Linked DNA regions of Homo sapiens: region 1 is linked to region 2. The links come from fine-mapping of genetic effects on gene expression. A gene starts in region 2. The other region holds a variant in brackets. All regions are shown on one strand. Distances are from middle to middle.

Region 1 (2,912 bases), 52 kb before region 2:
AAAATCCTACAATCTCCTGTAATTTCATTGTCAAGGTCACTGTTCCTGGATTTGTAAGGCAATAAACAGCAGCTGTGGCAGAGAGGACACAAAACACAGAGAAGACTGAGGATCTTGTACTAGGACTTTGGATTAAAAAGGTCATTTATTGGCCGGGTGTGGTGGCTCACGTCTGTAATCCCATCACTTTGGGAGGCCGAGGCGGGTGGATCACCTGAGGTCAGGAGATCGAGACCAGCCTGACCAACACGGAGAAACCCCGTCTCTACTAAAAAAAATACAAAATTAGCCAAGCTTGGTGGTGCATGCCTGTGATCCCAGCTACTCGGGAGGCTGAGGCAGGAGAATCACTTGAACCCGGGAGGTGGAGGTTGCAGTGAGCCAAGATCACGCCATTGCACTCCAGCCTGGGCAACAAGAGCGAAACTCCGTCTCAAAAATAAATAAATAAACAAACACAAAGGTCATTTATCTACAGTCCTATCTTATTCTGGAAAGGACAGGATGTGGCACTTAAATGTAAAAGCAGAAAACAAGTTCTGGAAATTTAGGATGAAAAATTACAGAACAGAAATGCATGTTCAAAGAGATTTTCTTGATGAGACTGTATGGCTGTTTTGCCAACCTGGTAGGTATGGTACTTCTTAAAAGTGAAAATAAGTCAGGGACACCTAGAAAAATCAGGGAACAGAAGCCATCCCATGCCATTCCTACACAGAGAACCAGAATAACGTTTCCGAAGCGCCTGTTATCCTTTAGGATTTTCAGATCTTACGCACACTTCCTCTTTCGAGGAGTAGCTGGCACTTGCTCAGGCAATCAGGGCTGTTGGTAAATTCAACCAAGGCTTTCTCTGCCTGGAGTCGAGTGGTTGTGTCTGTGGTTTCATACAGCTGTTTGCACAGATTCTCTAGTTGGGCCAGGCTCTGGAAAAGATCAGTCAGGAAAGAAAACAGTTCAGCCTACTACAAATGTAAGCAACTGTGCTTAAAATTAATAAACAAAGATAAATAATAATCAGTAAAGAAAGAATTGCTTCTGAACTGAGGAGAACCTGGGTAACATTCACCTAATAACCATTTATAGGTCTCTTTATTTGATGCTATAGAAGACAAAATGGTAAGATGCTTAGAATACCTATATAACTTTTTCATCATTCCCTTGAGGATCAATCATACATGATACATTTTTCCGCTTGCAAATACCCAGCCTCCTAAGCTTTCCTAAAAGGCTTTGAAATAAAAATTCAAAATTTACTTATTCTGCTATTAATGTAAAAAGTGTGAAATACCAGAGGCACGGCTACTAAAATTAAGCACATAAACATGATATAAGTACCACACACATTTTCATATAGCTTTAAATATTCCTTTGAGTAGTAGTTATTAGCTTACAATAATGTATATGCGTAAAGATGGTCACCTGTACGAGAAAACCTCTAGAGAAAGCTTCAAGATGTATTTACGCACCTTCCTCCCTGGATCCCTCATGTCTAAAGTTCAGCAGACTCTCTTCTGTTGCACTTTAAACTCTTACTTTGGTTCCAAATTTAAAATGAAAG[C/T]GTCAAAATAAATTCAACCCTAGCATATGCTCACTCACAGATAAGACAAGGGAAACACCCACAAGCAAACTCTTCTCTCCAAATCTTGAACCAGTTCCAGGGAGGCAGGAAGGGGTATGGGTGTGTGCTTTGGTCAAAAACCCATAGGGAGGCATATATACTTGCACTTAATGTGGTGTTTAAAGGCAAAGAGGAAAGTAACTAATTAAGACTATACTTCAATATCACCTTTCACTGACTGGAGAGTAAACATCTGTTAGCCTTTAAAGGAATGGTTTGGACTTTAAGAAAAAATTGGAGCCTATTTTCACCAGCAGCAAGGATAGTTTGAGGGATCCTACTATTAGAAAGGACAATTCTGACAAGAACAAAAATAATAATAATTAAACCAACCTGTGTAAATTGCCTAAAATATATTACACAGCCAGTCTGCCCAAGGCTTTTCATTATCACTTTATTTCATTACACTGTGTCTTTATAAATCACAGCTTTTCCACTAAGTAGGAAAGCCTTTGGGGCAGGATTCATATTTTACTCAACCTGATTAATAAATTTCCAACACTAACTGAAAGGAAACAAGAACGATGAATACTGACGCCCTAAGATCATCAGTCCTACTTCAGACAGCCCCCAAAAGAACAAAACAACAACCTTGCCCTTAAAACGAAACAAACCATCTTTCACAACATCTTGGGACTTTGATTAGGCTTATGTTTAACTTGTTTCTGACTTCCAGGGGTCCCACTTAATCTCTTCTTCAATTCAAAAGCACAGAGAAAATCGCAATTGCAAAGTCAGATCTCAAGCAATAAAGTTCTATAAGTAGTACCTGAGTTTATTCACATGGCTTATGAACACAAGTAGAAAATAAGGCTAATTACATACATTCCATAAAATACATGCAAAAGCCATTTTTATGCTTGCCAGTACTGCTCAAGACCTTATTGAGAATTGAATCAGTTTAATTATAACCACTCACATTCCTAAACAAGGCATTAAATCTCCTTCACAAGGTTTTGTTTCAACATTGAAATCTATTTCCCCCCTCCTACAAAATGATTCCCTTAAAAAAAAAAAAAGAAAAAAATTATTTAGGAAAATAGGTAACAAGAAAGACATCAAGAGAAAGACACTGTTTAACTAAAACGTAAGCTGCTATAAAACCTGGCATCAGGTATTGGGGAGCAGCAGCAGCCTCAGAACCTCCACAGCCATCACACACTTTGAGCTTTCCAACATCCTGAACAGACACTCCCTGAACAGTCCTGATGCTTATGGTATAATGGCTCTCCTTAAAGTCTGATCAATCAGTTCCTGTGGTTCCCCCACTGCAACTCTTGTTTATGTTTAT
Region 2 (2,912 bases):
TACAGTTTGGAAGGCACTGCTCTGGCAGCCCCTAAGATGGCCATAAAGCCCTCCTCTTCTCACTCCCTGCACCAAAGACCATGCAGCTCCCAGGCAGAGTTGACTCTCCTTAGGGACTAAAGAGGAAGATTAGGTCACATCCCATTTCCATACCCCTAACCACTTCCCAAGGTGTGCTTTTCCCAAAACAGTATGCTTGGTTCTCCCTTGAGCTTTGGATCAACCTCTTCAAACCCAGGCATCACGGCTGAGGGCAGTGAGTTTGAAGTGACTCATCCTTGTCCTCACAGAGCTCATGACATTCATTTTTTTCAAGCTTATTTGGTCCAGTCCATGGCATGTACAGCAGAAGGCCTAAGCTGTGCACGGTGCTGCTCGCTCCTTGCCACGGTAACTGAACCCCTGTTGTAGAGGAAATGGGCCTGTTTATATAAGCACCTGTTATGGGATTAACCCCAAGAGTGTTGGTCTGAGTCTCAGTTTTTTCCAACCCTTCTGCACTGTGCCTCCATACAGATTGCTTCTCTAAACCATCTGGCTTTAAGTTAAACTTCTCTGAGCAGCTTGGATTTCCCCACAGCAATGGATCTTTTTGCATGGATCTGGATTCCATTTAGGGGCCCTGCAAAATGTTGAATTAAAGATCAGGAGCCCTGGTCTCTACTTCTTCCTCTGCCCCCAACTACCTCTGTGACCTCAGGCAAGTTGCAAATAAGTGTGTTCATACCTGCCCTGCCTTTGTCAAAGGATGGCGTGGCTGATGAAAAGTGTGTGCCTAGAAGCTTTGCGAGCTACGAAGCACTTTCGGTAACTCTGAACCATTTTCAAAATGTATATGAAAGTGATTGCTATTGAAACTTAAGATAATTTGCAGATGAAACCTAAGCATCTTTCTAATGCTCAGGAATGCTTGCAAGAAGGCAAAAATCCAACAGTTGAGATGTACTTGGGGAGTCAGTCCCTTCTCCAGAGGGGATGATCATCTTTCTAGAATCTTTACAGGGTTGGTGTGAGTGTGTGTTGTTGGCAGACAGGGAGTGCTCGCATGTAGTTAAACGGTTGCCTCTCTCTCTCTCTCTCTCTCTGTGTGTGTGTGTTTGTGAAACTGGTATCTGGTTAGGCCCACATGAGCTGTCTTATGTGTCTCTCTGTGCAGTGCCGTGTGTGTCATTCAGCTGTTAAGCGTTGAGAGACCTGGGTTCTGGTTTGGTGACCTTGAATAAATCCCTCAGACTTTCCAAGCCTGTTTCCTTATTTGTAACTTAGTGGTTTGTCCCTTCCAACTTGCGTACAGCTTGGAGGGGGGGGCCTTCACTACTGATTTCACTGTCTAGTTTGGTTTCTGGGTCTCTGTTCCAGTGGGCCAGCCACTCTTTGCTGGCGCCTCCCTGTGCCAACTTCTGTACCTGAATTGTTGCTCACTGAAGAGCTGGCATTTAGCTTTTTGGAAATTGTCTCTAACTCACTGGAAATGCAGGAAGCTTGAGTATAAAACTCACTCAGAAAAAAAAAAAAAAAAGAAAAAAAAGAACACACACTCAGAAGAAACCGCAGGGCCTATCAGCCTGTCGTCATCGAGCAGACTAGAATAGTATAGAAAACCCTAGGCAGAGAGGAAATGAACTTCAGAGAAGGGAAACACACGGCTAAGAAGAGAGAGGCAAGGGCAGGAGTGAAGGAGAGAGCTGAAGCCTGGGGCTCCGAGATGGTCAGAGGATGGGAGACGGGGCAGTGAAACAAGGCTTCTTGTATCTTCAGCAGCAGCAGACGTTTGGAAAGGTAGGAGTGAGGCTGGGCTGGGGTTGGGCAGGGGGCCTGGGAGGCTGCTAGAATTCCTGGGTTGGAGAGGGAGTTTCATATTCAAAACCCTTATAGGTCTGACTGTGCACCCACCAAGTTAGACCCAGAGCTCAACTTTGGGAGGGCTCTTTTCCTACCCGACGCTGTCTCCTGAACCAGGCCCCAACCAGGTCCCAAACTGTGCTCCTTACTGAGGGCTGTTTGCCCTGGGTGGGGGTGGGGGATGTGCTGCTTTCATCTCTTGCCTCTTTTGCTCTCTTGCTCTATGTTGACTTCTTTTCACCGGACACCTTGGAAGGGAATGGAAGGGGCAGCTGGAGGGACAGTTTAGGATGACAATAGAGGTTCCTTCCCAACCCCAGTGGGGTGCATGTGGCTGGTGTTCAGCTTGGGCTGGGGCCTCTGGGGGCCTGGACCCCAGCCGGCTGTCCATCCTCTTTCCCCTTCCCTGGCCTCCTTGAACCAGGAAGTCCTCGTCCCCTAACCAACACTGGGGGGCACACCTGTCTCTCTCTCATGGCCCAACCTATCAAGGAATGAGGCAGCAAGGTTCAGGAGGGTGGAGAGAAGTTCTCCTTCAGGATTTCGCACAGAAGGAGAATGAGGTCTCCAGCCCGGGTCACACGCCGCCCTCCTCACTCCCTCCTCTGGGCCTCGGCCACTGCCCCGCTTTCCTCCCCAGACTGGAGTCCACTGCGGTGGGCCTGTTTGGCCTTCTTGCAGCCTGCTTTGGGCTCATCCCGGCGTTGCTTTCTGCCTGGGCAGTCTCTGCTCTTGCTCGTGGGCCTCCTTCTCGGGGCTGGCGGCTGATCTCCGATTTTCTAATTCCTGCAGTCACTGTCCTCTTCTCTGCCTCCCTGGGTCTCATGTGATCTTCACCTCTCTCTCCCCATCTCCAAGTGGCTGCCCCAGTCCCCCTCCCACGGTTCCTCTTCTCCCCTTGGCTCACGATCTCCCCGTCTCTGGGTGGCTCCCTCCCGCCCCCGCCTCCCACGCCTCTGGCACAGAAATGGCGCCGCTTCGGCGCCTCACTGTATGGAGGGTCGGACTGCGCCTTGGCCCGGCTGGAGCTGCAGGAGGGCCCGGAGAAGCCTCGTCGGTGTGAGGCTGCC

What was found.
Region 1: its variant is fine-mapped to the expression of DOK2 in whole blood (TOPMed, PIP 0.90).

What each region holds. Positions count from the first base shown.
Region 1 is chr8:21,964,871-21,967,782 of GRCh38, reverse strand. XPO7 (exportin 7) reads right to left here. Exons shown (of 28, transcript NM_015024.5): 2 at 780-926. Among named protein-coding and RNA genes, the nearest start is that of XPO7, 47 kb to the right of the region's middle. The variant C/T (reference allele first, on the strand shown) is at 1,562.
Region 2 is chr8:21,912,406-21,915,317 of GRCh38, reverse strand. DOK2 (docking protein 2) reads left to right here and starts at 1,628. Exons shown (of 5, transcript NM_003974.4): 1 at 1,628-1,779; 2 at 2,808-2,912. The coding sequence starts at 1,717.